Regions from separate parts of the Homo sapiens genome. Here region 1 is linked to region 2. The links come from fine-mapping of genetic effects on gene expression. A gene starts in region 2. The other region holds a variant in brackets. All regions are shown on one strand. Distances are between the middles of the regions.

Evidence for each region.
Region 1: its variant is fine-mapped to the expression of ITM2C in whole blood (TOPMed, PIP 0.96).

The regions. Positions count from the first base shown.
Region 1 is chr2:230,901,517-230,913,828 of GRCh38, reverse strand. GPR55 (G protein-coupled receptor 55) reads left to right here. Exons shown (of 2, transcript NM_005683.4): 2 at 2,733-6,501. The coding sequence starts at 2,867. The coding sequence ends at 3,826. GCSIR (GPR55 cis regulatory suppressor of immune response RNA) reads right to left here. Exons shown (of 4, transcript NR_038238.1): 4 at 9,312-9,440. Among named protein-coding and RNA genes, the nearest start is that of GPR55, 18 kb to the left of the region's middle. RefSeq lists enhancers at 4,883-5,002, 5,013-5,122, 4,178-5,377 and silencers at 11,292-11,351, 11,422-11,501. The variant G/C (reference allele first, on the strand shown) is at 7,858.
Region 2 is chr2:230,857,919-230,870,230 of GRCh38, reverse strand. ITM2C (integral membrane protein 2C) reads right to left here and starts at 5,289. Exons shown (of 6, transcript NM_030926.6): 1 at 5,086-5,289. The coding sequence starts at 5,205. RefSeq lists enhancers at 1-23, 3,973-4,629, 4,630-5,288, 5,947-6,605, 7,731-8,341 and 1 more and silencers at 4,090-4,189, 4,980-5,069, 5,170-5,539.

The DNA of each region.
Region 1 (12,312 bases), 44 kb before region 2:
CCTCTTTGGTGTTGCAACATTTTACATTTAGACTTGAACTGGGCTTTGACCTGCTTTTCTCATCATTTTTGAAATTTGCCTTGTGAGTTCCAAGCTATTCCAGTAATTTTTTGAGCTAGGCCTGTGGCCATTTCAGCATGTTTAGTGAGGAGGCGGCCACCCCACCTTGCAGATTCTGAGCATCCTGAGTAGGACCAGTTACTCCTACACACCCCTAGGAGGCACCATCCCCACAGACCACAGGACACCAAGGCTTTGAATAAGAGGAAGTATTTTTTCCTAGATCTCTCATTACATAAATCTGTGAGAAAAGTTAACACATTGGAAACCATAGAATCTTTGGAAAGCCACCAAATCAAGTAATGTATGTTAAATGTTTAGTGCGTAGTGCTCAATGGATGATATATATATGAACCTATAAACATCTATCTATATATATCGATTTTCTTTTTCATTAGAGATCAGAGAGGGCTTGGGAATGGTATTACATATAAGATCTTAAAACACACCCCAATTTTTTCCTCCCACGGGCGCCCAATAGTGATGAGAAACAATAGCAGAATGAGAATTCTGTTAGCAATAGCTGCACAGCAAAGAAATAAGTCATAGGAATGCTTATTGTGGAATTCATTGTTTCCTGGTAAAATACTGGAAACCTAAATGTTTATGAATAAGCTACTGGCTAAATGAGTTTTGGTATACCTACACAATGGGAGGCAAACAAGCCATTCATATATGCTGATATAGACCAATGTCCAAGAAACATTGATGAGCGAAAAAGCAAGGGACAGGGGCTCTAGGTATATTATTTCCAAATTTTAAAGAAGTCATACATGTATATGTATGCATGCATATATTTGCATATATGTATCTACTTAGAAAATGTCTGGGAGGAATATGCAAGAAGCTGTAAGCCATGCTGCCTTTGAAAAGGACAGTTGAGGCCTTAGGGTACAAGGAGGCTGACTTTCCTACGCTTGTTCTTTTGTTCTCTTCGAATATCTTATTGAGCGCCTGGAATACTTTTAAAATTAATAAAAAGCTATGAAAAATAATAACAGAAGCTTTAATTAATAACAGAAGTTTTAGGAACAGGTGCGGGGCCTCCCGCCTGTAATCCCAGCACTTTGGGAGGCCGAGGTGGGTGGATCACCTGAGGTCAGGAGTTCAAGACCAGCCTGGTCAACATGGTGAAAACTGATCTCTACTAAAAATACAAAAAATTAGCCAGGGGTGGTGAGCGTGGTGGTGCATGCCTGTAATCCCAGCTATGAAGGAGACTGAGGCAGGAGAATCGCTTGAACTGGGGAGGCAGAGGTTGCAGTGAGCCAAGATTGTGCCACTGCACTCCAGCCTGGGTGACAGAGTGAGACTCCATCTCAAAAACAATAAAAATAAAAATAAAAATAAATAGCTGCAGTGGTCACTAGTATGGGATTCTCTGGTGGGAGTCCATGCTGATGTCTCCTCCCTGATACATCGATATCTTGGGATCTCAGCACCTGCTAGCCAGGAAGTCATGGGAGGTGGGAGAGGCACAGGAAGGTGGGTCTCACGGCAGGACCTGGCCGCACTTGCTCACCCAGCTGCTTTCTGCCGAAGTGGTTAAGGAAGATGCCAGGCATAAATGTCCTTTCCATGCCATGCCCCTGTGCTCTAGTGAATGTGGCACATTCCATGTCTAAGGCCAGTCCAAGTCAAGTACACCAGCAGCATGGCCTCACATGTGGGGAGAGGGAAGAGTGGGTGAGAAAGGAGGGAGCAGGGAGGTGGGCAGAGGCGGGCAAGTGGGGAGAGGGTGGAAGTTGGGTCGTATTTGAGTCCTTCTAGCAACCTGGTTCTGGATGCCTGGATTGAACACTTGGTTTTTTCCTGCTCCAGGGCTACATACCTTGATGCAGAACCCCACAATGGCACTCACCCCCTCACCCCAAATTGACCAGGCTCGGACCACACCCCTGTGCAACCACACCTGCAGCCTTGGTCCTCCCGTCCCTGAGGCCACTTCTAATTTTCTGCCCGACAAAAGGCCTTTCCTTGCCCTGTGGAGACCTCAGGGCCCCGCTCCATTCCTTCTGGGAATGCCATTTCTCCCATATCTCTCCATTTTCTGTCTGGTTTTCTCTTTGGGGTACAAGAGGCTGCAGCAGCTGCAGACCTTATATCTTGGCAACTATGAATCCCTGACAAGGGACTCCAACCCTCTGCCTGGAAACCCAAGCAAAAGTTGTGTTGATTATCATGGCTTCTTGGAGAGTCAAATATCTGTCCCTGAACCAATGAACTAACCAGCTACTGTGTCCAGGGGAATGCAACGCTCTGGTGTCAATCATCCCTGGTTGCAGGTTGACTGTGTCCAACCATCAGGAAAGTGGGTGGGAGGAGGACAAAGGAGACAAAAGGAGCTGAGTCCTGGAAACAGCATTTGAATCCCTGATCCAGCTGCTCCTGAAGTCAGCCCTACCCTAGTTTTCATGTTTTCCATTATGTGAAACTGTCTCTTTGCTTCAGCCTGTTTGGGTCTGGGTATGTGCTGTTACTTCTTTCAACAAAAGGAGTTCTGATTTAAAAGACAGATGTCCATGCACAGCAGGTTCTATATTTGTCAAAGAAAAATGTGTGTATGGTAGAAAGAGAGTGAGAAAGCGAGTCTGGAATGATATACACAAAAAGTAACAGTGGTTGCATCTGGGCAGCAGGATTAAAGGTAATTTTTCTTTTCTGTGTTCTAGTTGTGATTCAATGGGCATGAATTGCTGTGTGATGCTGGGGAGGTGTTTGTGATTCTTGACAAAGTCATTTGAATCCATCACTTCAAGAGAGTGAAAGGAGCCCCGTCTGATCTGTTGGTGTTGTAGGAAGAAACATGAGTCAGCAAAACACCAGTGGGGACTGCCTGTTTGACGGTGTCAACGAGCTGATGAAAACCCTACAGTTTGCAGTCCACATCCCCACCTTCGTCCTGGGCCTGCTCCTCAACCTGCTGGCCATCCATGGCTTCAGCACCTTCCTTAAGAACAGGTGGCCCGATTATGCTGCCACCTCCATCTACATGATCAACCTGGCAGTCTTTGACCTGCTGCTGGTGCTCTCCCTCCCATTCAAGATGGTCCTGTCCCAGGTACAGTCCCCCTTCCCGTCCCTGTGCACCCTGGTGGAGTGCCTTTACTTCGTCAGCATGTACGGAAGCGTCTTCACCATCTGCTTCATCAGCATGGACCGGTTCTTGGCCATCCGTTACCCGCTACTGGTGAGCCACCTCCGGTCCCCCAGGAAGATCTTTGGGATCTGCTGCACCATCTGGGTCCTGGTGTGGACCGGAAGCATCCCTATCTACAGTTTCCATGGGAAAGTGGAAAAATACATGTGCTTCCACAACATGTCTGATGATACCTGGAGCGCCAAGGTCTTCTTCCCGCTGGAGGTGTTTGGCTTCCTCCTTCCCATGGGCATCATGGGCTTCTGCTGCTCCAGGAGCATCCACATCCTGCTGGGCCGCCGAGACCACACCCAGGACTGGGTGCAGCAGAAAGCCTGCATCTACAGCATCGCAGCCAGCCTGGCTGTCTTCGTGGTCTCCTTCCTCCCAGTCCACCTGGGGTTCTTCCTGCAGTTCCTGGTGAGAAACAGCTTTATCGTAGAGTGCAGAGCCAAGCAGAGCATCAGCTTCTTCTTGCAATTGTCCATGTGTTTCTCCAACGTCAACTGCTGCCTGGATGTTTTCTGCTACTACTTTGTCATCAAAGAATTCCGCATGAACATCAGGGCCCACCGGCCTTCCAGGGTCCAGCTGGTCCTGCAGGACACCACGATCTCCCGGGGCTAACGGAAGGACATCCTGTTCAGGGGAAGAAAGCCCTGGCCCTGAATTCTGGTAACGGATATCGCGTTCCAGGGTTTTGATGTGGTGGGATGATCCGCACCATCTTCACTGATGTGCTTCCCTTTGATGCCCATTGAGTGCCAGCTTTGCTCATTATACCCCAAAGACCTTTTTTCCACTGCCCAGACAGCTTATACCACCCAGTGTTCAGGGATCTCTGAAGAACCCACAGACCAGGTGAATTACTGATTTCTAAGTCCAAAAACTATAGAGCAGAAGAATTGAGAAAGAGAATGAGACCATGTCAACAAGGCTGTTTCCAACTCTCCCCATTTTCCTGTTCGACTGGGAGGTTCTGGAAAGAAAGAGAGAGAGAGAAAAGAGGTAAAGGAGGGAGCCAAGAGAGTCAGTTATTGGGGAGAGTGTCTTGGGCAGAGGTGGGGTGGTAGGGATGAGTGAAGTCCCTTTTTAGTTTGGGTGTCCCAGAACAGAGCAGACTTGCATTTTCCAGTCCCTTCTGGAACTGTGTTGCCAAAAGCCTCACTGAGATGACAGCAAGAAGGGGTGGTGTTGGGGCTGGGCAAGTAGCATGGATCACCCCAAGTTTCCAGTGAGCCTCAGAAAGGTGAAGGAAGCCAGCCACACCTTTCCGTGCCCGTGAGAAGACTGCAAAATGACTGAGTGGGGTGTTGATGACATCCAAGAGCCATGAGGGGGGAGAGGAAAGGACACTTCTGGGGAAGGAAGAAGACAGGCCCAGGGCTGGAAGCACACAGCCCCTCCCCTATCACCATCAGGGTGTCCACAGCACGGAGTGTTGGTGCTGGCCCAGGGTGAAGAGAGACAGTGAGAGACGGCCTGGGAGCGGGGAGACCCCGACCTGCTTTCTATCTTAAACAGACTGGGAAGTTGCTCATTACAGCTAGCTTCCTTGAAAACAATGGCAAAGAATCAGGCCTGCCTTGGTTCCACCATAGGAGGGTGGAGGAGGTGCTGTCTTACTCACCTGCATCCTGGCTGGGCAGCTGGCACCCGTGGCACTGCCCATGGAGCCGTCCCTCCCTGGCAGCTGGGAGGGAGATGAGGCAGCTAGGCACAAGGGTGTGGCCTTGAGAAAGAAGGCAAGGGGGGGTCCCTGCTGGTCCCAGGAAACTGTAAACAATTGAGTCACGCCTGGATGGCTTCTCAACGGATCTGGAGGAGGAGTGCAAGTGACAGCGGAAGCCTCCCAATGACTCAGCTGCTCCGGAGAGTGAAATGATGAGAAGGATCCATTGTGGGGTGGTTTTGCATGACAGAGCGAGTGGGATGAGGAGTAACTGATGAGACTTCATGTGAGCAAGGTCTTCAGGAGGAAAAGCAACTGAGGTCTACTTGTAGGATCTGGGCTCAGTGGGGGCTGAAGGGCTTGGGAGGGGTGGTGACCTGAGGGGAAGAAGAGAAGCATTTGGATAAACCTGGACCTGTGGGGAGGAGGAGGAGGAAGAGGAAGAGGAAAAGGAGGGGAAGCTGAGCCGTGGCCCTAGGCTTGAAGCCTGCAGGGAGTGCAGGGTGGGTGGGGAACCTGGCTGAGCTGCTTCCTGCCTGAGAGCTTTCCCAGCTGGCCTAAGAGCCATGGACGGACAGGAGTCGCCTTCTCAGGAGCAGCTCCCGCTGTTGCTGTGTTCAAGTGGCACCCTGTACACCTCCTCCTAGGTGGATGGAGGGAAGGGTGAGGAAGAGAGCGTCAATGAAGGGGTGGAAGTGGATGTGGAGGAGTGACCAGACCAGACCAGACCAGACCAGAGGGATCGGAGGCTCAGGCCCCCTGAGCTGGGCCTCTAAGAACCACAGCCACAGAGTCAGGCTCTGCAGACCCAGAGGTAAGGCTGCCTGGCTGCCCCAAACCCCAGACACTCCTCTCCTTGCCTGCAGGCTGCCCTCTCCCATGGCCACCCTAGACAGAGACCCACCCGTGATACTCTGAGGGAGCCAGACTTTCACATGCAACGGGGCATTTGGGGCTGGTTCGGGTCAGTGTCTACGGGTGGTGGATTTAGTGACCACCCTCCTCCCACTTCTTTCTCTGCACGAGGAGTTGGGAGCCTGCCTGGTGGAGTTGAGTGATGCCCGTCATGTGCACTTGGGTCTACCAATGTGCTTAAGGCCAGATGGGCTTCCTAAGAGACAAGGGTGGGTGGACCTAACCAACTATCATCCCCAGCGATGTTCAAACATAAAATCTTATCTATGTGCAGCATGACTCTCTCCAGGTGACAGAAAGGGCTCTAGACAGCTGAGAGGACCTGATCATGTAGGGAGGGACGGGGAGGGGAGCCAGGACCCAGGAGCTGCATGGCTGTAAGAGGAAGGTCCTTGGAGGGTATCAGCAGTCTCAGTGTGATGTGACAACTATGGACCTGTGGGTGTGCCCTGGGGACCCCTGACCCATCCCAAAACACTGTGGAAAGAAGGGCCTCTTCTCCGTGGGGACCCGTGTCTGTGGGAGCGGGCACAGGTCCATGCTGCAGGCCACTACGGCTGCTCGGCAGGAGGGCCGAGAGTTTGGACCCACATAGCTGCAACCCAAGCTGGCCCATAATCAGCAGTGGGGCCCAGCAGCACAGGAGGGGCGGACGGTTAGCTTTGGAAAAAATGACTTGATTAATCTGATTCGCCAAATAAATAGATTCATGTGATGCCTTGTGACCTTGTCTTGGACTAAGCTTACTGGACCCGGAGAAGAGCAGGCCCCAGATGGCCCCTGCCAGGTCACCCAACAATCTTGGTCTCTTCAGCAGCCACCTGGCCACCAAGTGTGGGGCTGCAGGGAGTGGCCCTCCCTGCTCAGGAGCACAGCTGGGCCTGTCCAGGTGACCAGGAGCCAGACCCTTTGGGGTCTAGTTTCCACTCCCCCACATCCACACGGGTGCTTGGTTCTCTGTGGTAGCAGCCAGGCTACACAGACCCCGCATACTCGGCTGCAGTCGACCCCACCCTGCCCTTGCCACCTTGTCCCACCACCACCTTGTCGCACTGCCACCGTGACACTGCAGCTGCTTCTACAGGCCCTGGCTTCTCTGCATACACAGGGGTGGGGGGCCCAGTATGAGAAACCTGCTGACCGACTGAGGGGCTGAAGAACTGAGGGGCTGAAGACACAGGGCCAGTCTCTAGAGGTCCTCCTCGGTGGCCCTTCCCTCCCTTCTCTGACCTCCTGTGGTGGGAATCCGACTTTCCAAGGGTGGATTCTCCTAGGTTCTTTTCCGCACTTCACAGTGAATTTTGCTAGCCTTTGGAGAGCTCCCAGAAGCTGTGCCCTGCTAGGCTCTGGCCTGGGCCACTCTCTGTCCTGAGTTCCCCACAATCCCGAGCGCAGCTGATCATGGCGTGGGTGCTGAGGGCCAAGGGGGACATCTTTGCTCCATCTAACCATCTCCTACTAATCTAGGAGCCACCCCCCATGTAGGCCACGTCCCCTAGGGATAGTGACCACCTCCGCTTGGCCCCAGGGAGGATTTGACTTGGAGAATGTCAGTTCACAAGGTGCATTTGTCAACTATATTCCTCTTGAGTTACCTCTCTGGGGACCCTCGGAAGCTGAAAGTCATGATACTAATACTATGTAATTGCCACAGGATACCAAAGACCTCTGGAAGCGTAAGATAACACCCTTGTAGCAAGACCACAAAGGGATGGAGATTGCAAAGGTGCTTGAAATGACTGAGGCCTGATAACAGTTGTAGAGATTCCTAGAGGTTAAAAAGGATTCAGTTAATAGACCAGTGCGGAAAGAAATTGGGCAGAGCCACTGTGTGGGTGTGAGGAGAGGCTGGCGTGCAGAACAGTCAAGAGGCAAGGGTGGGGACATCCCCATAGCAGGAGGAGCTGTGTGGGGATGCCCACGCCAGACCACCCTTCAACTGTCCTCAAGAGTCAGTTGTACTGTGGACAGCGACTTTCCAGGGCCAAATAAAGGCTGGCAGGGACCACTTGACAACCTTACCACTGCGGGGGGACAGAGGACTCAAAGACATGCCAAAGGTGCCTTTTCT[G/C]GGTGAGCACTCCCCTGAAACTACCATCACAGGCCCCACTGGCTTTTTCCACCCAGAGCTGGCTTCTCTAGTGAGCCGAGGGCACAGAGCCATGAACAGCCATTTGAGGGGGTGTGGATAGCAGGTCAAGAGGGACTCCAGGAGCTTGAAGTGGAAGGACAAAACAGACGTCCCTCTGCCCCACTGCAGGCCTGAGCGCTCCCTCCCAGGCCAGGAGCCTGCAAGATATGACCTCCTTGCAAAGCTGTTGCAGAAAAGGCCACATGGTGCCTCAACCATGAGTCACGACAGAAACGTGGCCCTTTGTGCTTTGAAGTCTCGTGAGGTAGGATCAGAAGCACTGTCACTTCAAAGCCAGACGCGGCTCTGGTTCACTTTTGAGGCTTCAGATGACAGCTTTATTCCGGAGGCCCACGCCTGAGTGAGTGTAACAAAGACGCTGCCTGCAGGGGGGACCTGCATCTCCACCGGGGCCAGCACAGTTATGCAAAGGCTGCTTAGGGTGCAGACAGATGTCTCCAAAAAGCCTCTCTTCTCAGTAGGTGGCTTTGGGCTGTGCGTAGTGCAGATGAGAATGCATACACACGTGTGCGTTTCTCGTTCAAGTGGTGTCTCGGAGCGGCTTGCCGGTGGAGGCCACACAGAGTTTAGGAAAGTTGTGCCAGAGTTGACTAGATCTGGCTAAACCCAGATTTTCCAAACAGCCGATTCCCCAAGTCAGTGCCTAGTGCATTTCAGACGGAATGACCCTGACTGGGGAAAACTGATGTCCAATGACCCAGTGATCGCTGTGTGAGCCCCCAGCCAAAGCACAGTTCTGGGAGTGGGTGGAGGGGTTTCCCTGAGGGCAGTGGAGAAGCCTTGAGGCCAGTGGGCCTGGAGTGGTTAAGGAGGGCTCCAGAGGACCGGCTCAGGGTGGGACATGTTTGTGGGGATGGGTCTCCAGACAGCATTAGGTAGGTGGAGAGACCTCTCCCTCCCCAAGATGGGCCACGCGTTGCTGGGCACTGGGCACTGGGCACTGGGTGTGGCCCCCTTCGGCAGTAGATACCAGCCTCTTTGCTGTGGATTTCCTTCAGTTTCCTAAATCTTCAGTACCAACTTCAAGTCGCAGCCAGGGCACAGCTTTCACCAAGGGGAATCAGTATGAGCTTTACAGCAGAGCATGAGACCCAGAGATGCCTGGAGGGGGGAACCCACAGAAAATAGGACTTCCCATATTAATGGAGTGTGAGGAGCAAAGTCATTATTCTCTGAGTATTATTAAAGGGTATATGACCCCAAAGACAGGACTATTTCAATTATATGAACAAAGTGGGATGAAATTGATGGTTAAGAGATCTGTCAGCTATTGATATTTCTTCCCTGGGACTTTACACTGCAAAAAACACCCATATATGGCAAGTATGTTGTCAGTCTACCTGAGCTGCCATAATAAAACACTGCAGACTGAGTACCTTAAACAACAGGAATTTATGTCCCACAGTTCTGGAGGCTGGAAGTCTCAGATCGAGGTCTGGCAGGGTCAGTTTCTGGTGAGGCCACTCTTCCTGGGTTGCTGATGACCACCTCCTCACTGTGTCCTAAGAGGCAGAGAGAGAGGAAACAAACTCTCTGGTGTCTCTTCTGCTAAGGACATTAATCCTACAGGATCAGGCCCCACCCTTACTTCATTTTACCTAAAAGCCATGTCTCCAAATACTGTTACACTGGGGGTTAGGGCTCCAGCATGTGAATTTTGGGGGGGACACTTCAATTCACAGGAACGGCTTCTAGGCTAACCTGGAGTAGAAGTCACACTTCTCTTATTTCTTCAAATTGAACGTAACTTGCCCTAATTCACCAAGGTTTACTGGAGGATGCTCCAGCTCCATTTCACTGGATCCCTTCCGCCCCCAAGATCCTGCGCGGGTCCTAGCTGGGGCATCCCTTGATGACTGCACTGTTTGCAGAGAACCCTGGGTTTCAGTCCACACTGGTCACAGCCATGGTGCCCATCGAGGACTGGGCCTTTCAACAGAGGCATCCGTATGACACTTGGGCACGCAGCTCACTCCTGCAGGCCCCAAGCCCTCCGCGTTAAATGCTCTCGCACCTTCATGTCTGAGGCTCCTTCAGCAGAATGCTTGTCTGGGCTCTTCTTGGGAACCACAGTAGCCCTGCACCTTCCCCGGCTGACCTTTGGACTCACAAACCTAGCATCCTTTTCAGGTAGGGCTTTAGGCAGCCTCTGAGAATGATGAAAGCTCTGGCACTAGGTCTTTTGTTTTGTTTTTCCGTTTGTTTGTTTCGTTTTAAGACAAAGTCTCACTCCTGTCTGCCAGGCTGAGTACAGTGGCATGATCACAGCTCACTGCAGCCTCAACCTCCTGGGCTCAAGGGATCCTCCTGCTTCAACCCCCTGAGTAGCTGGGACTGTAGGTGCACACCACAATGCCTGGCTAATTTTTGTATTTTTTGTAAAGACAGGGTCTCGCCATGTTGCCTGGGCTGGTCTTGAACTCCTGGGCTGAAGCAATCTACCTGCCTTGGCCTCGCAAAATGTTGGGATTACAGGCGTGAGCCACAATGCCCAGCAGGCCATGGGGTCTTAATTCATCTCGTGCCATCGATCCTCCTGCAGTCAGGAGGAAGCCTGTGGACCTTCCCCAGAAGGGCAGTTTCACATGCATCAAGTAAAAATGCATGGAATTAGAGAGGAAACCAGATATATGGAAATGTAGTCACCAACGTAGCAATATATGTTTCTTTAGGCACTGGATAACAAGATCTAGTGATGGGTTTAATGATTATCATAATTTTGAATTTATGATGAACTGAGAAGTTATTTTGAATTATCTGCAGCAACTGTAGTGGGATATGAGAGTATCTGTGATGTCTATTGGTGACAAGTCCCAGGAACCACACCATCTATCGTACTGTGGTGTGATGTCTACGTGCGTAATGGAAGGAAATGCTACCTTCAGTTAGTGATTAGTGAAAATAGCATGTAATGTTTTCCCTCAGCAAGTTCATGACACCCGTGAATTCTACTCCTGATCCCCAGGTTGAGAACTTTTGGGTTAGGCAGAGACATAAGGAACCTGGGCACAGGTGTTCTTCCTCTGGTGAAGGATCATTTGTGTGCCCGCTTTGTTATGCAAATGTGAGCCCCCAGGGTCCCATCCTCTTCCTCTTGGGGTTTGGGCTGACCCAGGACCTTTGTTTGTGGGGCTTAGAGAAGCTGGCCGGCCCTCTTTGTATGCCGCACTATAGGAAGCAGAGTCCCAGGGCCCTCTGAAAGCAAAGACACCCATATCCCAGTCCCCAATCTCAGAGATGCAAAGTCAGGGATACCTGTCTAGGAGTTGTAGGGCAATCCAAGAATCAGTGGCAGGGGCAAGCAATGAGGCCCCCAAAATAAATCACCTTGTGTTAAGGGGGATCTCAACTGATAACACTGTTCTGGCCAGCATGGAACGTGGCTGATACTGGACACCCCTTCAAACCCAGCCGCCCTGCCCCAGGAGCTATGCTTTGGGAAGGGATGGCCGAGTGTGAAATGATAACTAAGAAGAGTCTTAAGCCTGAACCTCAACCACCAAGGGCATCCCAGCGTCTGGGGCAGCAGCGTCCCTCCTTGAGACACCAAGCTGCAACAGTGTCACCTTGTGACAGCTTGGAGAAACAGCAGCAGGGGCTGATGGAACCCTGGCTCTCCTCCCTCAGGTGTGGAAGCAAAGGAGGTCCCTGGGGTCTTTGAGTAATTTGGGGGCAAGTCTTCTGCCTAAAAGACCCATAGGGAAAAATAAATTAAGCAATAAAAGAAATTTGACCATTTTGTAATCTAAGTTGGTGAAGTAGGTCATACCAGTTTCACCATCATCATCGTCTTATATGATATTTTATTACTATTACTGCCTCCTGGCATGTATCTATGTAGTAAGTTCCACTATCAGAGGATGACCTTACCTACCTTTATGGTTTTGTTTTTGTTTTTGTTTTGTTTTTGAGACAGAGTCTTGCTCTGTTGCCCAGGTTGGAGAGCAGTGGTGCTATCTCAGCTCATGGCAACCTCCGCCTCTCGGGTTCAAGTGATTCTCCTGCCTCAGCCTCCCGAGTAGCTGGGACTACAGGCACCTGCCACCATGCCTGACTAATATTTTGTATTTTTAGTAGAGATGGAGTTTCACCCTGTTGGCCAGGCTGGGCTCAAACTCCTGGGCTCGAGTGATCCTCCCGCCTCAGCCTCCCAAAATGCTGGGACTACGGGTGTGAACCACTGCATCCGGCTCCCTAACCTTATGTTATAAAAGTTCTCATGAAAGTACTTGGGGTCACCTAATTGTCACCCCATCAAGCATCTCCAAGGCCCAACCACTCCCAGCAGATTCTGCCTTTGACACGATTGTGAGTCCTTTTCCCAATTCCTAATCCCCTCCTGTGGTATCCCCTGTCCCCACCACTGCAAACTAC
Region 2 (12,312 bases):
AGGCTCAAACACCAAAGCCCTGGAACCCTCACTGTCCCTTTGGCCCTCAAAGCAGCCTGTGATCTCGGGGTATTTACACCTGTCTGGGGACAGTGGGGCATCAGGGAGCCTGGGCTCAACCCAGAGCCCTGGCCCCTTGGGATCCCTGGTGCCCAGCTCACTAGAAAGATGGCCGAATGGCCCACCTTCCTGAGACCCCAGCCGCACCACCTATCATGCTGGGGACCCAGAAAAATGTTGCTCCCCATAGGAAGCAGTTACTGACAGTGAGGTATCTGAGGAGGGGGGCTCCCATTTAGATAGTAGAAAAATATTGCATATTGTTTCCAAGGCAACAGAGCTCTCTGAGCGAAGGGCGCATGAGCCGGAAGTCCAGGGACCCGAGAGAGGCCTGGGCCTCTCCCTGCAGGCTTAAACTGAGACCCACAGGGGCACTCATTAAATGATTTACCAAAGCCAGGGCCAAAATGGTCAGGGGGAAACCAGCCAACTGTAGCATTAACTCGGCAGACCCCCACAGCTGGAAGGGAGCGCTCCCGGGCCCCATCCCCCAGTAACAATGTCCAAATTAACTGCAAGCCGATTTAACGATGATTGCAGATTGCAGCCTGCCTGGAGGGGTTCGGCAGCCAGAAACGCACTCCTGAGGCCCAGGCTGAGAACAGGGAAGATGGGGGTTGGGGAGGCAGTCTCATCTCACCTCCCCCACATCTCTCCTGGTCCTCAGCAGCTTTCTTTCCCAGGCTCCAGACCACAGAGGCCAGGGCACCCACCGAGTGTGTGTGTCTTGTATGTGTTCAAGACAGAGCCTAGCTGGGGGAGAGGAGAGTGGGCAAACACTGTCCACCTGAGCACACAGAGCCCAGTGGTCCAGAGGCACAGATGCCATCTGCCAACAGGGTCAGGGGTCCCCATCACTCTCCTGTCCTCCCTTCCAGACTGCAGGCCCCACGGGCAGCATCTGTGCAGATGCGCTCTCGGCTTGGCTGGGCCAGGCGAATTCCCTCTTCTCTTCCATCCCTGATAGTCAAGGCATCTCCAGACAACAAAAGCTCACTGCTGGAAGAGCCCTCATGGGGAGAGGGAACTTGGAGAGAGTGGGGCGGTGGACAGAGGGGCTGGCCAGGTTGTGCCTCTGTGATTTCACCATAAACATTTTTTCTCCACACTAAGAGAAACTCATCCTCACTGGCAATCTGCTGACGGTCTTGAAACATGCAAGGACTGCTGAGAGAAGAGAGCAGAAATGAGGGAATGGAGAGAGAAGCGGCAGGAAAGCAGAGAAGCCACCGTGGGGCCTGCCGGGGCGCCAAATCCCAGGAATGGACGACAGCCATGAAAGTCCCCACGCTGCCACAGGGAAGGACCTGGATGGAGCAGGGCCGCTGCTCCACAAAGTGCTTTCGGGCCAGGCCCTCTTGGCCAGTGGGCATCAGGACACTGGGGTAGGGCTAAGCTGGCCAGATTTGCCCTCCTGGCTGGCACGGGACCCTCCCCCAACCGCTCCAGGAGACCCAGCTCCTCCTGCCGAGGGCCTGAGACCAGGACACACTAGGAAACTGAAATCTGATCCCCAGGTATGCAGGCTGGGGAGGGGGTGACACAGGACCATTAATCAAAGGCAAATGCCAAGGAGAAAATTACAGAGGTAAGAAGATGATTGTATTTAACTTGTTTTTCTCCCCTTACAGCCCCAGCTCGTGAGCCTCTACATGCCCACATCTGTGCGTGCATGTGTGTGCATAAGTGTGTGTGTGTGTGTGTGTGAGTGCAGGCACAGGCAGGGTGTGGGGAGAAGGGGCAGGCTAAGAGGGGCATGGCCAGCCAGTGGGCCCCCAAAGGGGAGGAGGGATCCAGTTGGCGCTGGGAGGGAGTGCTTTGCTGTCCCAGGGGGTGCTTCCGGTCCAGCCCACTTCCCAAGCTGGCAGTGTCCCAGCTCCTCATTATCTCAGAGTCAAAACACCAGGGGGGGAGGCCGGGCAGCTGGAAGCCCAGCTGGCCCCCACCCCCATCCCTCCCTGGCCCACTGAGGCACTTCCTTCCAGTCTCAGGTCCACAGACAAAATCCTCCTTGTGTTGCAGTTTTTGCTCAGAAGCAGGGGCAGTGCCCACCGAGAGGGTGCTCCTGCCGCCTCACCCTGCCCCCACCCCGCCCTCACTCTGGGCCTGGACACAGGTCAAGAACTGCCCCAACGCACAATCATCTGTTCACCGCACAATCATCTGTTCACCGAGTGCTCCTCCTGCGGATCACTTTTTACATCTTGTTTTGGGCCGGGTGTGGTGGCTGACACCTGTAATCCCAACAATTTGGGAGGCTGAGGTGGGAAGATCACCTGAGGTCAGGAATTTGAGACCAGTCTGGCCAACATGGTGAAACCCTGTCTCTACTAAAAATACAAAAATTAGCCGGGCATGGTGGCAGGTGCCTTTATTCCCAGCTACTTGGGAGGCTGAGGCAGGAGAATCACTTGAACCTGGAAGTGAAGGTTGCAATGAGCCAAGATCGTGCCACGGAACTCTAGCCTGGGTAAAAGTGAGACTCTGTCTCAAAAAAAAAAATAAAATAAAATAAAATAGATAAAATAAAATAAATCTTGTTTTGGAGTCCAGTTCAGACACCAAGGAGGGTTCTGGGGTCACTGCCAGCCAGAAGAAACGTTTTAATAAGCTTTCCTGGGCATTCCCAACAGTACGGGACAAAATCTACACGCCCTGCCCTGAGAAAGCAGCCTCCTGGCTGCCATCCCTCGGCTCACAGAGCTACAGCTGAGAAATGGGCCTCCTGCCTGCTCACTGCTGGGGGCAGGAGACGAGGCCTGGCTCCTTGCCAGAAACTGGGTAAGGAGGAAATGTGCGGGTTGGCCAAGTGGGGCAACAGGAGGCCCGCAGAAGTGAACTGTTTCCAAGGCTCCAAATCTAGCAGGTGATGGGCAGAGCCAACTTGCAACACCTAAAGTCCCTCTGCACCACGCCAGGGCCTTGGGAAGCTGTGAAAGTTTACTAACATGCAGTTCTGTCCTAAAGATGCCAGGATTCTAATTCTTTCCCCAGATCGCATAGTCCTAAGCTCCCCCTTGCCAATTAGAGAGGGAGGGGACCCTGCCCAACTGACAAAGTTTGAGGGAGGAGGTACTCAGCAGGCTCAAGGCCATTACAAACAGCACGCAGGAAGATGTTGATATTTCCATTTCATGCTGGGTGAGGGGGAAGAAAGGACGCTCAATTTCAGAGCCTGATGAGAAGCCAGAAGCTAGGATGTCAGTTATGCCCCGAGATGCAGGTCTCTGTCAGACTGCCCAAACCCATGCCATCAGCAGGCTGCGGCTGGAGAATGTGCCGCTCCTGCAAAATCTGGGGGACCTTCTGATGGAGTTGGAATAACACCCTCCCACTGTCTGACCTGGTCCTCCCTCCTCAAATATCTCCAGGAAGAGGTGGCTAGGAAAAGAGATGGGCAAGCGTGCTGCCTCCTGCCCCCATCCCTGCCCCTCCCCAGGCTGAGTGGAGGGCAGCTTCCCTTCCAAAGAAAAGGAGTCTTGAAGAACCCCTTGCAAACTTTTAAAGCTGCAGAACCATCTTCTTCAAATATGGAGCGCCCCCTCCACCTAAGCTTCAGATGAAAAGGGGGGAGCTGCTCTCATGGGGTGCACAGCAACCCCCAACCTCGCCTAGGTGGTTGTTGAACTCTTGTGGCTCTGAGCCACTGGTTGCTGCAGTGACCACCATAAAAGGGCAGGGGGTTCTCAGTCTCCTGGCATTCCTCACTCAGGGTCTCTGCCCAGGCTGACACCCAACTCTGACGGCCCTCTCCGGCGCCCCCTCCTCCAGGGTCCAGGTCATCCTCTGCAGGCCCCTTAATGCCCCAGGCAAGACTGAACCTGAGCCACAAAACCTGGGGAGGGGGCTAGGCGTTCAGGAAGACTCTTCAGAAGCCTGCATCTGGAAGTGGGGAAGCAGTGGACAAAGACTTTCTCAGTCCTGCCTCAATGCGGGGTGGGGAGGCGGGGAGGACATGGGCTTGGTAAGCCACAAGACCGCTGGGGGCGGCGCCCACGTAGACACCTTTGCCAGGCACAATAAAACCTGGCTGGGCCAGCTCTCCCTCCCTCCCTGTCCCTGCCCGCCACGCGTTCTGCCCCCTGCGGGCCCTTCCCGGACACAAGGCACGCAGCTCAGACAGTTTTCCACGGCGGAAATGCCTTCTCTCCCCCCCGGCCAGAGGGAAAGTGGAGGAAGCCGGGGTAGGGGAGGGGGATGACAGGGGTGGGGGAACGCGCACAGAGCCCGGGGACCCAGGATGCAAGGGCACTGGGGCAGTTGGGAGCCCTCCCCGTGGGGTCGGGGGACAGCCCAGCGAGAGGCTGGGAATGGAGAAAAGAGAGGGGAGCAGGGAGGCCCAGACGGCAGGGCGTGGGGTGGGAAGGGGGCACCCGGCCTCGGACCCCCGACGTCCAGAGGCCGCAGCGCCGTCGGTTCTGGCTGATTTCCATTTCATCACTTTCTGGTCTGTCAATTCCGGTGCAGGCCAGCAGCACATCCTCTGTCCCTCGCAGCCCCCAATTTCGGAGGAAATCAACGGCCCCACCCTCTTCGTTGGTACCAGACCCCCCCACCCCCAATTCCCCAGCCAATCAGGTCCCACCGCCCTACTTTGGAAAAACTACGTCTAACCCTCCTCCCATCCCCCACCTGGGGACTCGACTCGCGGCTTTCCCAGTTGATTGGAACCAGACGCGTACCCCCCCACCAACATTCCTCGAACTTCTTCGGACCAGCCCCCTCCCCCTATAAGGCGGCGAGGGGGCCCCCACTTTTGGAAGAGACCTCGAGCACTTCTCCACCTGAAGACCAGAACCAGACGCCTCCCACTCTTCGGACTTCAGCTTTTGGCTGCCGCTTTAGTACGGGACTTAAGCCCCCTCCTCATTCTGGGATAAGCAACCATTCGAGACTTCCCAACCCTGCTCCACCCCGGGCTCTGGGGCCCTGACGCGCCTCGGGCAGTCCCCAGGGCCGACGGGGCGCGCCTGGGTCGTGAGCCTGGGTCCCCCGCCCCACCGCCTGAGCCCCAGACCCTCTCACCCTAGCCGGCGTCAGCAGGATCTCGGTGGCCGAGGCCGGCGCAGGGGCCGACGCCGACGCCTTGTCAGCCTTGTCGCCCTTGATGCCAGCCACGGCGGGCTGGAAGCTAATCTTCACCATGGCTGCGCCGGCCCGCGCGTCCGCCCCGCAGCCTCTGCCGGTGCAGCCTCGGTCTCTGCCTCCGCCGCTCCGAGCTCTGCAGGCACCGGAAGTTTGGATCCCGCTCGCGTCCCTCTCTCTAACCCCACCCCCAGCCCTCCCCGCCCCGTCCCCGCGGGAGGGCCCCGGCGCCCGCCGCGCCTGCGCCCCCTTCCCGCCCGCGGGGCCCGCAGTGACCCCTGCCGGGCGCGCCGCTCCGCACCTGGGGCGGGTCGGAGTTCCTTCTGCCGCTCGCTCGCACAGTCACTCACTCGCTCGCTCACTCACTCACTCACTCACTCGCTCACTCATTCATTCAGCCGTCACGCTCGGATCCGTTCTCCGTAGCATAATCCCTTCGCATTCCCTGTCCAAGGCCAGCATCCCCGCAACGCAAGTCTTTGTTAACCCAGTGTTTGCCAGGCAAATGCAGCTTCCAGACAACTCACCCGTCTCTCCTGCCCCACTTCAGGTCTTCCCCTTTAGAAACGCTGGAGCCTCCGCTCTACCTGTCCCCACGCCCCCCTCCTCCGACCTGTCCTTGGCGCGGGGAGGAGGCTTTGAGACAGGCGCCAAACTGCTGCCTCCGTCTTGCCTTCTGAAGCCATCCACGCCTCCTTCATCCTCCATCTTGCTTCTGCCTTCATTCTTTATTCCTGCAAAACCTTCCTGGGGGGTCCTGGGGTGCACGCTGGAGCCGCCTGGAGTGGAGAAGGGAAGGCCGCCCCTGCTCCCTGGCTCCTTCGTGTTGCTGCGACCTCAGTTATTGGGTGACCTCCTGAACTGCCCTTGTCTCACTCATCCAGGAGGACCCTGGCGAGAGTGGAGGGAAGACCCCCAGGGCGGGTGTCAGAGGCTCGGGTTCCACTCAAGACTCTGCTCCTCCCAAGTATCACGGGTACTGGGGAAGCAGGGGCTTCTGTTGCTGGGATGGCTGCTCTTGGCACTAACGCCCTGAATCTTTCCTCTTTGCTCCTGGTCCAGACTGGGCCAGGGACAGCGCCCAGCAACACACACAGGTTGTGCTGAGTGGTCCGCTTTGGTTCTGCTGTTGGGCTGCCAGTGGAGGGCAGGGGAGTCCGTCCGCTTCTTGAGGACAGTCCGGGGTCCTCCACTGATCTCTCTTCTCACCTTTCAGGTCTTTTGCAGCTGCCTTGGGCCCTTAGCGCCCACGTCCCAGACCCGGACCTCTTGGCTCAGATCTTGGATGAACCTAGCAACCTTGAGGACAGACAGGTGGGGAAAGAAGAAAGTCTAACTGATGCTAAGGCCACCAGCCTGGGGAACTGGGGGGAGGGAATGGGGAGGTGGAAGAAGACAGATGGTTTGGAGGAGACGAGGAGGAATCTGGTTTGGCACAGAGCCAGAGAGGAAGGTGTTATGGACTACCGCTCATCACCTGCTCCAGATCCCATGGGAAACCTGGTGTCTGGAGAAGGCAAGCTCCACGTCTTGCTTAGGCCACACCCCCAACATGCATTCCTTCACTCAGTGTTTTCCAAGCACCCCTGTGTGCCAAGCATTGTGTTAAGCTCTGTGGCAGAAAACAGAGATGCCCAAGACACAACCCAGCCACCAAGGATGTGGTCATGTGAAACCTTCTATGAGTGGCATTCTTTCACGTGCATTCAATTATTTAATTTTCATCACAGCCTCTGTGACCTACACATTAGCCTCATGTTAATAGTGATAGAAGGTAGCATGACTAAACCCAGGGTCGCAGAGCTGGTTTGGCACAAATCTCTGGTCAGCAAGACAGGGCCACCTGGGTGAAGCATCCACATGCCTGAGATTGGCAGGCGAGCACCCCACTTCCCCTGGAAGGCCTTCCCAGACCGGCTGGGATAAGTCCCTTTCCTGTGCACCTTCAGCACTGTGCACATCCCCCTCGGGCCTCTCCTTACGCTTGACCATGGACTCAATGCCGGCCAAGTGCTGGGCGTACAACCTAGTGCAGTGATTCCTAAATTTTTTGGTTTCAGGACCCCAAGAGCTTTTGTTTAGGTGGCTTATGTCTATCAACATTTACCATATTAGAAACTAAAACTCAGAAAGTTTTAAGACACAAGAATACATATATTCCATTGGGCATCAAAGCGATGTCATCACACATGTAGTCTCTGGAAAACCCCACTGCACGCTAATGAGAGAATGAGAGTGAAAAGGGCAAATAATGACTTATATTGTTGCAAAAAATAGTTTTGACCTTGGAGACCCCCCTGAATGGGTCTTGGGGGGCACCATGCTCTGCAGATCACCTGTTCAGATGCTCAAGAATCCATATTCCATGGATTCTAAGAAACACATTTCTTCACATTTTAACATCTTGAGAATCAAGATATCTTTTACAATTATAATTGGCAGTGATTAAGTAATGTCTTTCACAAGTGATAGCATCTTATATTTGATGGAGTACAGTATAGCCAGTCAATAATCCAAGGGGAGCCAGGAGGCTGCGGGAGGTCCATGTCGCATACTGAGTTTTGTGGACTCAGGGAAGGACAGCAGGGTGAATGCGGTCGTGGTGCAGCCCAGGCTCCATGCAAGACAGGAGATTTGGGTGGGAACTGGAAAGACACAGGGTGTGGACAAGTGACAGGGAAATGAGAGTCCGCACTGGGAGTGAGGAGAGTGACTCTGGGCCAGGAGCCCTCAGCTCAGTCCAACAGCCATTCCTGCCAGCACCTGAATCCTCTTTGTTCTGTTCTTGCATCTTACCCAAGTGGCAGAGCTTCTCCTGTCCCCCTTTCTGGTTCCAGGTTCTGCTCAGGGACTGCTAAGTTCTGTTGGTGAAAGTGATACCATCATGCCCCTTGGGACCAGCATGCTACCTCCTCTTGGAGGGGCATGGTGGCAGCCATGCAAAGCGGTCCCCTTGGAGCTGCAGGGTGGGACAGCTGTGGCTTCTTTAACCAGTCATTCTCCAAGCAAGGACCTCGGCCAGCAGCCCCAGCAGCACCTGGGAACTTGTTAGGAAGGCAAACCCTTTCTATGTCTATTCCGAAACTCAGGGTGTGTTCTGTGCCCACCAAGCCCTTAGTGATTCTGATGCACACTCGGGTTTGGGAACTGCTGCTCTGTCACTCTGTCCACACTCTCAACGGCCACATCCTGCCCTCTCCAGACTGCTGCACACCTCTCAGCAGCTCAGCTGCTGAGGATCTGGAAGCCATGGCTTTAGGTGGCTTATGTCTATCAACATAAGAACGCCCTCCTGCCTGCCAGCACATCCGCCCCCATCCACAGCTGCCCTTCTGCCCACTGCTCCTCCTGCCACTCGCCGCGGAAGAGGCGTCTGTCTTTTCTCTCCAGCCACTCTCTAGATGAGGATTCCACCCCTCCCCTCCTATCAGACACCTGAGACATCCATCAGCCCCCGCCTCCTAACCTTTCAGCTCTTCCTGTCAGCTCTGAAACATGCTCGTATTAGCCTTAAAACAAAAACAAACCCCTTCTTTGACCCCACGTCCTCCTCCACTTGATACCCTGTTTATCTTTTCTTCTTCTTAGCCAAACCTCTTGAAAATTCAGTCTCCATTTCCTTATCACTCCCTACACTCATCCTACCTCAATCTGGCTTCTATTCCTCCACCTCCACCTGGCTGAAATCTCCAAGCTGCTTTTCAGTCCTCATCTTCCTTGCGTTGATTTTGAGCCTCTTGGCTGAGGCCTCTCCACTAACTCTTCCCTTCCCTCATCAACTCTGGTGTGATTGGCTCCAGTGGGAAGGGCTGTTGGAATCAATCCTGCAACAGTTCACTTTGAAAATAAAATCTCAGGCTGTGCACGGTGGCTCCTGCCTGTAATCCTAGCACTTTGGGAGGCCAAGGTGGGCGGATTGCTTGAGCCCAGGAGTTCAAGATCAACCTGGGCAACATAGCGAGATCCCCGTCTCTAGTTAAAATAAAATCAGAAATGAGAACTTTTACATGTATTTGCCTGTTTCTCAAAATTTAGAAGTTGAATGTTGTTTGCAAAGATATCTAGTTTATTACAATTTAAAGCACTGGTTATGTAAGACTTATGGTTGTAACAAATCCATAGAGGGTCAGTAGATTAGCTTTCTGGAAATGTAACGGGCTCAGACAAGGGTGTGCCCATTGTCCTCAGAGTTCTTCTCAAGGAGAAGTGTGCTCCATCAATCACATGCTCTGAGTAAGGGAGTGGGTGAGTTTGAGATCCTGTTCTTCTGACAAGAGCAGCAGCTATCTTCAGCTCCACCTCCCCTACCTCCACCTGCCCCCTTCAGAGGCCCCTCTTTTCCACTGAGGAGCTAGCTGAAAGCTAAGTGTTGAAGGTAATTAAAAAAAAATTTTAGGTAAAATGAAAAACTATTTTACAAAGATATATATTCATGTATCCAACAAACCAATCAAGATACAGAACATTTCCATAATTCCAGAAAATTTCTTCCCATTCTTTTCCAGTAAATCCCCACCACCACTGGCAACCACTGTTCTGGTTTCCATCACTATAGATTAAGTTTTATCTGTTCTTTAATTTATTTTATTTTCTTTTTCTTTTTCTTTCTTTCTTTCTTTTTTTGTTTTTTTTTTTTGAGACAGAGTCTTGTTCTGTCACCCAGGCTGGAGTGCAGTGGCACCATCTTGGCTCACTGCAACCTCTGCCTCCTGGGTTCAAGCAATTCTCCTGCCTCAGTCTCCCGAGTAGCTGAGACTACAGGTGTGTGCCACTACACCTGGCTCATTTTTTTAAAGGAGGTTTTTAGTAGAGACAGGGTTTCACCATGTTGGTCAGGCTGGTCTTGAACTCCTGACCCCAGGTGATCCACCCACCTTGGCCTCCCAAAGTGCTGGGATTACAGGTGTTAGCCACCATGCCTGGCCATGTTCTTGAATTTCATATACTGTACAACATGTATTCTTTTGTGTCTAGTTTCACTCAATATGTTTATGAGGTTCATCCACAATAGTTTGTTCTTTTTACTTGCTGAGTAATATTCCATTTTTTAAATACACTACAACTTGTTTATCCATTCTCCTGACATGGACATTTGGGTTGCCTTCAGTCTTCCACCATAAAATTGCTATGGACATTTCTTTACATGTATTTTTGTTTTAATTTCTCTTGAGTAAATAGCATCAGTGAGGATGAGGTAGAAATGGCCCACCCTACAAGACAGACATATTTTATCACTGACATTGTTTAGAAATGCGAATGCATTGTGATGATGTAAAGTAGATCAATTTTTAGTTAGTTTTATTATAATTTTTAAATTCTGTGCAGAAATTGCACTCCCTTATTGCCTGATCTGGACAGACCATTCACATGACTCTCTCCCCATTTCAGCACAGCCCTGCCAACATATCTGTGCTATTTTACACTCCCACCAGCAATGTATGAGAGTTTCAGTTGCTCCACAACTTTACCAATATTTGGTGCTGTCAGTTATTTTAATTTTAGCAATTGTATTTAGTAAAATTTTATGTTATTGTGGTTTTAATTTGTATTTTTCTGATGACTAATGATGCTGAACATCTTTTTATGTGGTATTGGCCATTTGTATATCTTCTTTTGTGAAGTGTCTGCTTAAGTCTTTTGGTCATTTAGACTGTCTTTTAATTATTGATTTGTAGGAATTCGTTTTATATTGTGGATACAAGTCTTTTGTCATGTATATTCATTGTGAATATTTCCTTTCAGACTGTGGTATTTCACTTTTAAAATTTTGTCTTTTCATGAGTAGAAATTTATAATTTTGATCAAGCTCAATGTATAAATTTTAATTTTATTGTTAGTGCTTTTAATGTCCTGTCTAAAAATTCTTTAAACACCCATGTTCAAATTTTGAAGATATTCTCATATTCTTTCTTTCAGAAGCTTTATAGTTTTAGGTTTCACATATAGGTCTGTGATCCACTTTTAATTGATTTTTTAATGTAAGGTATGAGGTAGGGATTGAGGTTTATTTCTTTTCCATATGGTTATACAGGTGTCCCAGCAGTATTTGTTTAAGAAATTTTGTTTTTCTCATTTAATTGTTTTGGCATCTTTGTCAAAGACCAATTGACAACGTTTAATGGATTTATTTCTAGACTCTTTGTTCTGTTACATTAGTTTATTTTTTTCTATCCTTATGCCAATTTCACACTATCTTGATCACTTTAGATTTCTAATAAGTATTAACATCAGACAGTATGAGTACTCTGACTTTTTCGAGACTGTTGAGCTTTTCTAGATCCTTTGAATACCCAAATAACCATTTGAATTGGTTTATCAAATTCTACAAAAGAAAATCTGTTGGTATTAATTGGGCTTATGTTAAATCTATAAACCAATTTTGGGGAAAATGATATCTCAACAATTTTGATTTCAAATCCATGAACATGGTATATTTCTCCATTTGTTTAATTCCTCTCACAAATGTTGTGTTTTTTTTAGTATAGAGAATATAGAGGTCTTGAACATCTTTTGTTCAATTTATGTCCAAGTATTTTATGTTTCTGATGCTATTGCATTTATTTGTTTCGTTTTATAATTCTTTATTGGTAATGTATAGACATACAATGGAATTTGGAAAATCGACCTTGTATTCTTTTTTATTTGAGACGGAGTCTCACTCTGTCGCCCAAGCTAGAGTGCAGTGGCGCGATCTCTGCTCACTTCAAGCTCTGCCTCCCAGGTTCACGCCATTCTCCTGCCTCAGCCTCCCGAGTAGCTGGGACTACAGGCACCCGCCACCATGCCTGGCTAATTTTTTGTAGTTTCAGTAGAGACGGGGTTTCACCATATTAGCCAGGATGGTCTCGATCTCCTGACCTCAAGATCCACCCGCCTTGGCCTCCCAAAGTGCTGGGATTACAGGCTTGAGCCACCGCACCCAGCTGACCTTGTATTCTTTACAACCTGTATATATTCATTTTTTAGTCATGGTATTTTAAATAGGTTCATTGGGTTTTCTATATACATAATCGCATCATCTGAGAACAAAGACAGTTTTACCTCTTTTCCTCAATCTTTATGCCTTTTCTTTCTCTTGGATTACAAGTAAGGGCTCCAGTACAATGTGGTATAGATGTGATAACGGTGAACATCCTCACCTTTTTTCTGATCCTAGAGAGCAAGTGT